Linked DNA regions of Homo sapiens. The protein of the gene in region 1 purifies or fractionates together with the protein of each later gene. This does not show direct contact. Each region holds a gene or a part of one and is shown in the gene's direction. Other genes may lie near its edges.

Region 1 (3,654 bases):
AGATGCCAGGCGTGCAGCGGAGCCCTCCTTAGTTGGCTTACCTCAGACTATCAGTGGTGACAGTGGGGGAATGTCAGCAGTTTCAGATGGGAGTAGCAGCAGCCTAGCAGCCTCTGCTTCTCTTTTCCCGTTGAAGGTGCTACCGCTGACGACACCCCTGGTGGATGGCGAGGATGAGAGGTAAGATCATGTCATATTTCTGGAGACATTCAACAGATTTGAAGTTAATCTATTTAGTAGCTATATGTATGCACAAAATGACTCTAAAACATTGTATATTGTGTTTTGTATGTGAAAAATGCATTTTTATGGGAAGTTTTATAGAGCAAGAGTTATGGAATGGTTTCAGAGGGAGTAGGAAATAATAGTAATATGTAAACAATATTTTCAGAATAGTTGTTGAGCATGTGTTCACATTAAAAACAGGTTTGGGGGCGCCAAGTGGTTTTATTATCTCTAAAATGCTTTTTAGAAATATTATGGAAAGCTTAATTTTTGCTAACCCACATAATAGTTAATCTATTTTGAGCTGCTAAAATAATCTCTTGGGGGGTTGTGGTTCCCACGTTTGTTCTCCTTTACTAGACATCCCTTTTTCATTTCTACTGTGTTTGATCTTAGTCTGTGAAAGATATTGTTGCCTACTTTTCCTAGTCAGATATGGTAGGAAAGATGACTTAATCTGGGTTATATAGGTTGCCCTCATACTCCAACTGACCAACTTTTGCGTACTTATTTAATGGTCATTTTATCTGAACAGTAAAGGAATGGGAATCTTATTTTGTGGGAAAGGAGGACATAAACTATCAAAATAACCAGACTTATCTTGATAGTATGCTGAACATTTTTTCTTTTGCATGGTAGATCAAGGTGGTAGCCATTTTAAAGAACAGAGAAAGTAAGTCTTGGAGGATTGAATTTATAGAGGCGTGAAAATAAGACCTTGGTCTCTGGCTAATCTACTCCACCTGTTCCTTTCTTTCCTTACCAAAAAGATACAGAAAGCCTAAAGTACATTATTAAACCAAGCGTTTTTTCACGTAGATTGGAAATAATATGCCAGTAACGCTTATTGAATCAAATTGTGTCTTTGAAGCTGACTGGCTAAAAAAGTTGTGAAATCTTTCATGTTGATTTTTAAAGTAATGTTCTTTTCACAAATTTTCCAGTCTGTTACTAACCTTGATTAAAATGCTATTATAGGAGTTATGAAAAGACATCATTTTCACGGTGGAATTTGGAGTAAGCGTGCAAGATATTTAATTATTTTAGTATTAGTTGGAGGGTTTTGTGATTGAACTTTCATCAAGCGAATTTAAGCATTTATATTCTATATGTATGTTTGTGGGTTTTGCTTTGGAAAAATTGAGCATATTGCAAAATAGTTGTAATTTTAGAAAAAGAAAACAGGTCAAATGTTTCAGTGAGGTTTGTGTTATTTAGTTGTTTAAAAGGTAAGATAAAGACATGGTTAAATTGATAAAATCTTATCTTTCAAGATTTTTATTATTTTTCTAATAGTCAGGTAATTAAAACCTTGTTACCTAACCAAATGTATTCTGTATTATTTGTACAAAACTGTACTCTAAAAGATAAACTTTTAGGAGGTAGTTTCCTTAATTGTTCCATTATTATTGTTAAACCTTTAATTTTATCATGCTAATACTCAACTAATTTTAAAAGAATTACCACAAATATTAATGTTTTTTAAGTCAAAAGGTTATGATTTGAGTGAAGCCTCTATAAAAACAGCTATATTATGTGGATGCTAAGTTTAGAGAAACAAAAGACGGGTAAAATACACAAACAAAAACACTCATTTTGAATTCAAACTTGCCATGATTTTGTAATTGCCATTTGTGGTCTCCTGGCTTGACTTTCACCTCTTTTTCCTCCTATTGGTAGGACATGATAGGATTTTCCACAGCTTGCCCTTCCAGGCAATTAAAGTCAGATGATGCTACTTTCAACTAGAGTTTTAACTATAGGAATAGGGTCCCAGTTTAAGATATTAATATAAAATTAATTTTTCCAGATAATAATTGAGAAAAGGAATAATAAGGTGGAAATTATGGAATTCTAGAAAGGGACAAAAAGACATACTGAGAAATAAGGAAATATAGCTCTAATACAAGTTGTCTTCAGACACTGTACACATTCAATTATAATTATGTTTAGCAGTCTCTCCCACAAGACCAGGAGTTCCTCAAGAGCAGGGACTGTTTTGAATTTACTACCTATTTGGGCCTTGGTTAGTTAACATCAAAGTTTCGTGATTAAAAACCAGAAAATTTTTGTTTTAGCGGTATCTTAAATTCTGTGAAATCGGAATGTAGCCCTAAAACACCTTGTAAGATCAGAAAAGATATATATTATATTCTTTATTGTGTTTTACTGAAGATTATTTATCACTACAGTTTGGAAAAAAGTTAATTTTCATTTAAATTTGCCCTTGGAAGATAATTTAAGAATAACTACAAGAGAAAACAGTGATATGATTAAAAAACAAACTTTTAAAACCTTTCTTCCCATGGTAGCTTCTGTTGTCACTTGCATCTTCTGGGCTTGGTCACCATTAGTCTCAGGAGAGAGGGAATACATATATAATTTCAATATTATGAATCAGGAAATGTGTTAACAATATAATTTGGGCAGTAGGACAGATGAGGATGGTTATCTTTTAATCATCTTTTGAAATAATACTCTTAACACTTTAGATTATAAAATGTTTAGACATGTGGAAAGTGCCTTCAGTTGATCACTGGGAGAGACTATAAACATGGATCAGGATGCTAAGATTATGTATCTTGTTTTAAAAAAAATCATTCTTATTTAAAAGGTCTTAATGTCAGGCCGTGTGCGGTGGCTCACACCTGTAATCCCAGCACTTTGGGAGGCTGAGGTGGGCAGATTGCTTGAGCCCAGAAATTTGAGACCAGCCTGGGCAACATGGCAAAACCCTGTCTCTACAAAAAAATACAAAAATTAGCCAGGCATGGTGGCGCATGCCTGTAGTTCCAGCTACCTGGAAGGCTGAGGTGGTAGGATCCCCTGAGCCCTGGAGGTCAAGGCTGCAGTGAGCTGGGATCATGCCACTGCACTCCAGCCTGGGTGGCAGACCAGGACCCTGTCTCTAAAAAAAAAAAAAAAAAAAGTCTTAATGTCTTAGACTGTAACATGAACTGTGAATTCACCTTTACAAGAATGGGAAAATACAGGTATTGCATCTTTTATGTTTTGTGATTGTTATTAGCACAGCCTCTTAACGTGAAATGGGTCAAACTTCTATTCATCCTTCAAGACTCAGCTCAGATGTTCTCTTTAAAGCATTCTTTTCACTCAGGGGACATTGTTTCCTTAGCACTTTTTAATATTCCTCTATTTAAGCACTGTACACATTCAATTATAATTATGTTTACCAATCTTTCCCACAAGACTAGATGTTCCTCAAGGGCAGGGATGAATTATTTTTTTGAATTAATTAGCAGGCATTTCTCCTGATTTTTTTTTTGTCATGATTTAAAGTTTATATTGTCCCTCATCTTAAGCACAATTGTGAGAGATGCAGGATCATATAATTTATGCAACAAATGGAAAAGAACTGAATAAAAAGACTTGCTTTTTTGTATCTCTCATCAACATTTTTAGGTGAAT
Region 2 (3,654 bases), on another chromosome or scaffold:
CCAGCTACTCAGGAGGCTGAGGCAGGAGAATCACTTGAACCCAGGAGGTGGAGGTTGCAGTGAGCTGAGATCGTGCCATTGCACTGGGCAACCAAGAGTGATATATAAATAAAGTAGCTGATAAATATGAAAAACATTCAGCCTCTTGATCAGTTGAAGAAATACAAAATTTAAGAGGTTTTAGGGAATAATACACTGCTGAGAAGATGGTAAGAAGGGCACGCACAGCTGAGTACGGTGGTTCACACTTGTAATCCCAACACTTTGGGAGGCCAAGATGGGAGGAATGCTTGAACCCAGGAGTTTGAGACCAGCCTGGACAATATAGTGAGACCTCATCTCTACTAAAAATTTAAAAAATTAGCCAGGCATGGTGGTGCGTGCCAGTAGTCCCACCTACTTGGGAGGCTGAGGCCGTAGGATCACTTGAAACCAGGAGTTTGAGACCAGCCTGGTCGACATAACAACACTTCTACAACATCTCTACAAAAATTTTAGAAAGTATCCAGGCATGGTGGTGCCCGCCTGTAGTCCTAGCTACTCAGGAGGCTAAGGCAGGAGGATCCCTTGAGCTCAAGAGTTTGAGGTTACAGTGAGTGATGATTGTGCCACTGTGCACTCCAGCCTAGGTGACAGAATGAGACCCTGTCTCTTTAAAAGATGAAAATAAAATGTAGCCAAAATGGTTATTTCTAAGTGGAGGCAGCCATTGTCAACCTGTTTTATGTCTTTGTTACAGGAAATTCCTGTTAATGATGGAATAGAGCTATTGCAGATGGTTCTGAACTTTGATACCAAGGATCCCCTCATCCTGTCCTGCGTCCTTACTAATGTCTCTGCACTCTTTCCATTTGTCACCTACAGACCAGAGTTCCTGCCCCAGGTCTTCTCTAAGGTATAAAGCCCATCTCCTTTGTAAATTTTATTTTGACATTTCTAAGTTAATTTTTATTTATTTTATTTTTTTGGAGACAGGATCTTGCTACATTGCCCAGGCTGGACTCAAATTACTAGTCTCAAGGGATCCTCACACCTCACCCTTCTGAGTAGCTGAGACTACAAGCATGCACAACCATGCCTGGCCTAGGCTAATTATTTTTGTAACTATTTTTAAAATTATGTGAGGCAAACTAATAAACACAGCTATTTATTCATTTATTAAATATCTACTCAGTACTTACTGTGGATCAGGTACCATGCTAGTGCCTCACTCTTTAGGAACACTCTGGGAAGAAAGGCACAAAAACAGTTAATGTTACCTATATGGCATTGCAATGAAGACTTGTATAAAGGAGAGTATTAGAGTGTGCTGTCGGGCAGGGAGGGGATTTATGAGAGGAAGGAACACTTTCCAGGTTTCCAGTTCAGTTGACTAGGTGGGTGATAGAGCCACTCCCTGAGTCAGAATACCAGATCACAAAGGAGAACGGGACTAAAGAAGAGAAAGCATGAGTATTTTGGAATACTGTGTTTGAAGAATATGTAGAACATCTTTATGGAGACATCTCACAATAAATTGGCTATTTGAGGTTGAAGATCTAGACTCTAGAAAGTAATGAGATAAAATTAAAGCATCATCATCATAGTAGTCCCACGACTAAAAGTGAAGTCTTACTGAAGTGATTATGTATGTAGAGTTAGGAGACATGTGAGTCAAGCGAGGAACCTAGTGAATCACCATCATTGGAGGAGTGGAGAAAAAAATGAGAAGCCCCCACAGAAGGAAAAAGAGCCAGAGAAATGAAGAAAATGTTGTGTCACAAGACCAGTAGGACTTCAGAAAAGTGGGCTCATTTGTTGCAAATTATTTGAGTTGGAGAATGCCCAGTGAGTTTCTTGACTACACTCTTGTCTGAGTTTAATTCCATAATAGTGGCCAAGTAAGCAGCCATATTTCATTGGAATGAGGAGTAAATGGGAAATAATGAAATGGAATAGAAGGGATAGACCATACAACTTTTGATAAAAGAAGAGAGAGGCGTTTCCATAGCCAAGTGCTTGGGTGATGGCATGAATTGTTCTGGGATCCTATTGTAAAATGTTTTGATGGTAAAATTGTGACTCCGATGACTCTTGTAGAGGTTATCTGAGAAAATGGACAGTATGAATAAGCTCATGCCCGTAGTCCCAGCTACTCAGAAGGCTAAAGCAGGAGAATCAGTTGAGCCCAGGAATTCAAGTCTAGTCTGGGCAACATAGCAAGATCTCATCTCTAAAACAAATAAACATGAGTGACCTTTTTTCCTCCTCTCCCTTAGCTATTTTCATCTGTCACTTTTGAAACTGTTGAAGAAAGTAAGGTAAGACCATTAATTAAACCAATAGATTCTAACTTCTTGAGTACAAATGTATGAATACCTGATACTCAGTTTATATTTTTATATAAATGGGAGGGGGTAGTAAGGGTGGTAGATTATCATATATGTTGTTTTGCCACTATAGGGCATACAAGAAACATGGATTCTTGGTGGCTATAAATGTTACTCCATTATACTCTTAGGGTTGTGAAAAATCATTGTGAATTTGCCCCTGACTGAGATATTCACATGAGTCTATGCAGCACCTGTATATTATATTAAAAGCAGCTCCGAGTTTGTTGAATGTCTCTTTTCAGGCCCCCAGAACCCGGGCAGTGAGGAATGTGAGGAGGCATGCTTGTTCCTCCATCATCAAGATGTGTCGTGACTACCCCCAGCTTGTGCTGGTAAGCTGCTGGACCCTGGCTGAAGTAGCCAAGTTTGGTTACATTTGTGTGTAAATCCAGCTTTCAGTGTACCTCACATAAAGAAAAAACTAGAAACTATAGCTTTGCATCATATAAGCATCCTTGGCCGGGCATGGTGGCTCACACCTGTAATCCCAACACTTTGGGAGACTGAGGTGGGTAGATCACCTGAGGCCAGGGGTTCGGGACCAGCCTGGACAACATGGTGAAGTCCGGTCTCTACTAAAAGTACAAAAAAATTAGCTGGGCATGGTGGTGCATGCCTGTAATCCCAGCTAGTCAGGAGGCTGAGGCAGGAGAATCACTTGAACTCAGGAGGCGGAGGTTGCAGTGAGCCAAGATCACGCCATTGCTCCAGCCTGGGCAACGAGCGAAACTCCATCTCAAAAATAAATAAATAAACATTCTTGAATTGGTGTTTTCTTAGTATACTTAGTAGTATAGTTAGAAATGTGATGGCAAATGTAATCTCTCTTCAAAATACAAATAGTTCTCTGCCATATAGATTACTAAGTTTACCCCTATAATTCTACAACTCTTTACTATGTGATGATCTTAATTACTACTGCCAAATGATGTGCCTGATCTTGAGAAAAGCAGATGCAAATCACAACCCTTTTTGGGGCATGGGGTTATAAGAAATTTAACATTACTCCAGATTACAAATTATCCAGAAATTTCTTCTCTGAATGCACAGCAGTTATCTCCATATATATATAGATATACATATATATCTATATATATATATAAAACAAGCTGATCTTTTCACAGTTGTAGTATGGGAAAGTGCAGTTATCCAAATACTCAAGACAAGAGCTATCTTCCGCCTAAATTGCCTTGCTTATTTAGGCAAAATAAAGACATATAACAGAATTACCAAATAATAACCTTATAGGCCTGACTTTCCTGGGACTGCTTTGGTTTTCTTC
Region 3 (3,654 bases), on another chromosome or scaffold:
TATGTATGTTTGAAAGTTTTCAAAATCTAAAAGAAGAGGGGAGACGACCCCTAGCATGGGGGTCAGGCAGGTGACATCTCAGCACTAGCTGGGCTGGATTGAGACTCTGCTTCTGCAACTAGTCAGACTGAGATTAAAAGTCAACTTTGTGGGCTTGGCCTCCTCTTGTTTGCTTTTCGTGGGAATCTGCCTCCCTGGGGAAAGGCCTGAGAGCCTTGACCTTGGGCTGAAGAGTGTTTATGCAGCTGCATGATTTGTGGAGGTGGTCAGAATAGGCTGGACAGAATTTGCTGTGGGCCAGGCCATTTTAAAAAAAGAAATTGGCAAGAGACCATTTTACACAATGGCTGTGATACGTAATGTTAAAAAAATATTCACAATATACCTGAGTTATAAATAGTCCAAAGATAAATATTGATCACAACACTGGCTGGGCCAACCTTTGACCTCCTCAGCACTCTACAAACTTGGGTTAATTGAAGGCGATGCCTCTTCTGTTATGCTTACTGGATACCCCCATGGGATGCCAGGTGGCCTCTGGTTCTCTTTCTTCTGTATTTGGGGCTTTCAGAAAAGTGAGACTTTTCAGAAGTAAGATCTTTTGACCCATGGCCTGTGTTTTTATAAAACCATTGATCAATTCTGCCATCAAGCAAAAGGTCTGTATTAGGTGAAATAAAACACTCATGAGGACTAAATGAAATCGCAGATATGAAAGTCAGCAATTCCCAAAGTGACCATGAGCCCCATTCTCTTTCCTCCCTCCTCCTGTGGAAGGGCTCCCCAGGTCCTTCCCACCCGGATTCATCCAGCCCGTGATTTTCATGTCACCAGGCCTCCACTGCCTCCAGGTTGGAGACAGGGCTCTCTCCCTGGCAGCTGCTGGAGAGCGAGACTGTTCCTGAGCCGCCCATTAAACGTGTCTCCTGCAGCAGTGGCTACACTGACGTGTCCTTCTCTCCACCCAGGCTATGACTTCTGCCAGGTCCTGCAGTGGTTTGCCGAGAGGGTGGACAGGATCATCCTGCTCTTTGACGCTCACAAGCTGGACATCTCAGATGAATTCTCAGAGGCCATCAAGGCCTTCCGGGGCCAGGACGACAAGATCCGTGTCGTGCTGAACAAGGCCGACCAAGTGGACACGCAGCAGCTGATGCGGGTCTACGGGGCCCTCATGTGGTCCCTAGGCAAGGTCATCAACACGCCCGAGGTACTGCGCGTCTACATTGGCTCCTTCTGGGCGCAGCCCCTGCAGAACACGGACAACCGCCGGCTCTTCGAGGCTGAGGCCCAGGACCTCTTTAGAGACATCCAGAGCCTCCCCCAGAAGGCAGCGGTGCGCAAGCTCAACGACCTCATCAAGCGAGCGAGGCTGGCCAAGGTAAGCCAGGAGATGCCTTGCACAGAGGCCAGGGGCTGGGACTCTGCTGTCTCCTCTCCAGAGGCAAGATGGGTGGGAGGAGGCTTCGTTCCAGAAGGCTTAAGGAATGAACATGCGCTAGGTTAAGAATACAGCCTCGAGGTCAGGTGGCCCTGCTGACACCCTAGCTCCTGGCTCTGCACTCCTGGGCAGATGACTAACCCTGTTCTCCAATCTGTACCATGGAGCTAATAAGAGCACTTCACAAGAACTTGGGGTGACAGTTGGTCAGTGTGACAGAGCACTTGGCATAGTGCCTGGTGCACAGGGAGGGGGATCAATCAGTGCACCCACTACATGGTAGCTGTTAGGATGTCAGGACGATAGGAATATAACCAACCAAACCTGAAAGAGGTGGCATTGGTGAGACCAACAGGATGCTGAGAGGCCACTGCTAGTCCCCGTGCACCAAAGGCCAGTGTTACCACCTGGATCCAGGGGAGCCCTGGGAAGAAGTATGGCTCAGTCTTACTCTTGGAGTGTGCTGGTTTTGGGTCACCCCCGCATCCTCATTCTGGGCTGCGGGCTGTTAGCCTGCATGCCTGGGCTCCTGGCTCGCCTGCCTCATAGCTGAGCCTTTCAGCAGCCCCAGGAGTGTGTGCCCAATGGGGCAGTGAGAGGTGACCTGCTGACATCCCTCAAGTGACAGAGTCAATTCATGTCTCCAAAGAGAGAAAAGCATATCCCTCCTCCAAGAGAAAATACAGAGAAAAAAATGGCTCTTTAAAAAATATGTGCATGTTTCATAAAATCATTGTCCTCTAATGCTGGAAGTGCCTTTAGAGTTTTATCTAGTCCTAGTGAAGTTCAAACCTGGCTGATCATCAGAAGCAACATACATTCCCAGGCCCTGCCCCAGAGCCTCGGATATAGGGGTGTGCGTGCACACATGGCCTTGTGTGAATATGCATGTGTGTAAACATGCGCGTGTGTGTGTGTGTGTGTGTGTGTGTAAAGCTCCCTGGGTGATTGGCTATGTGCCAGTCATGGTATGGATGCTGCCATGAGTGCTCTGGGAAGGGTGACTACGTGCCTGGCCAGGAGGCAGGGAGGGCTTCCCTGATGGGGACAGCCAAGGTGGGGACAATTCTTCCTCCTTCTTGCTGCTCATTAGCAGCCTGTCCTCGTGCCAGTGTGCTCACTGGGCAGCCTCTTGCCTGGGTGAAAACAAACACCGTCCTGGCTGCTGCTGCCCCTCACACAGGACCTCGATGTCCTGTGTCCCTCTCTGTCACGTGTGTCCCAGTGCGTGTGCATGCATTCCTCCCATATGGCTCAGCTAACCTGCAGTGGTGTGGTGCTTGTGTGAGTCATCCTTCTTTATCTGTTCTTCCTGGTCCAAGTGGCTTCCTTTCCAGAGCTACAAGCCATTTTTGCTCCAGTTCTGCAAGGCAGATGTGCTAACTAGTTTGTAAATCCACTTACGTGCAGCTCTCCTGAAATGATTTTGCCCTCGCCCTTGTCCTGGGCCTAATGCTTGGTAGCAGGAAGGCTGTTTTTCCACTCGGTGATCCCTTGGTTTGTGGTGTTTCCTTTCTCCAGCAGGTACAACTGAACAACCTTCAAGGTGTGTGACACCCCACATTAGTTTATAACCAAAGTTGGTGACTCATGTCATAGCCTTTGCAGATTTTGAGATTTTTTAAAACTATTTTTAAATGCTCATGGACATTCTTCATTTACCAGTTATTGGTAAATGAAGACCCAGTGACTGGAGATGCTGCTGTATTCAGTCATATAAATAAATAAGGAGGCCGGGCACGGTGGCTTACGCCTGTAATCCCAGCACTTTGGGAGTCGGAGGCGGGTGGATCACAAAGTCAGGAGTTCAAGGCCAGTCTGGCCAACATATTGAAACCCCGTCTCTACTAAAAATACAAAAATTAGCCAGGCATGGTGGCAGGCACCTGTAATCCCAGCTACTCAGGAGGCTGAGGCAGGAGAATCGCTTGAACCCAGGAGGTGGAGGTTGCAGTGAGCCAAGATCGTGCCACTGCACTCCAGCCTAGGCGACAGAGTGAGACTCTGTCTCAAATAAATAAATAAATAAATAAATAAATAAATAAATAAATAAGGAGCAGAAAGCTCGCTGGAAATGCCAAGCGCCTTAACCCGTAGAGCTTCCCTGCCATCCTTGAGCCTCGGGCCCTCTGAACGGGCCAGCGCGGCCTGGGTTTGGAGGCACAGAACGCTGCTCTGTATTCTGACACTGTGAATAATGAAAACCCTTGTGT

What was found.
Region 2: the proteins of TSC22D1 (region 1) and XPO5 purify together in Homo sapiens (co-immunoprecipitation; one large-scale study listed by IntAct). This does not show direct contact.
Region 3: the proteins of TSC22D1 (region 1) and EHD4 purify together in Homo sapiens (co-immunoprecipitation; one large-scale study listed by IntAct). This does not show direct contact.

Annotation. Positions count from the first base shown.
Region 1 is NC_000013.11:44,569,689-44,573,342, reverse strand, and holds part of TSC22D1 (TSC22 domain family protein 1), read left to right. Parts: coding exon 1-180; intron 181-3,654. UniProt on the Homo sapiens protein: Transcriptional repressor. Acts on the C-type natriuretic peptide (CNP) promoter. Acts to promote CASP3-mediated apoptosis.
Region 2 is NC_000006.12:43,548,539-43,552,192, reverse strand, and holds part of XPO5 (exportin-5), read left to right. Parts: intron 1-739; coding exon 740-895; intron 896-1,181; exon of another isoform or gene 1,182-1,223; coding exon of another isoform or gene 1,224-1,225; intron 1,226-2,258; coding exon 2,259-2,300; intron 2,301-2,614; coding exon 2,615-2,704; intron 2,705-3,654. UniProt on the Homo sapiens protein: Mediates the nuclear export of proteins bearing a double-stranded RNA binding domain (dsRBD) and double-stranded RNAs (cargos). XPO5 in the nucleus binds cooperatively to the RNA and to the GTPase Ran in its active GTP-bound form.
Region 3 is NC_000015.10:41,916,937-41,920,590, reverse strand, and holds part of EHD4 (EH domain-containing protein 4), read left to right. Parts: intron 1-968; coding exon 969-1,381; intron 1,382-3,654. UniProt on the Homo sapiens protein: ATP- and membrane-binding protein that probably controls membrane reorganization/tubulation upon ATP hydrolysis. Plays a role in early endosomal transport.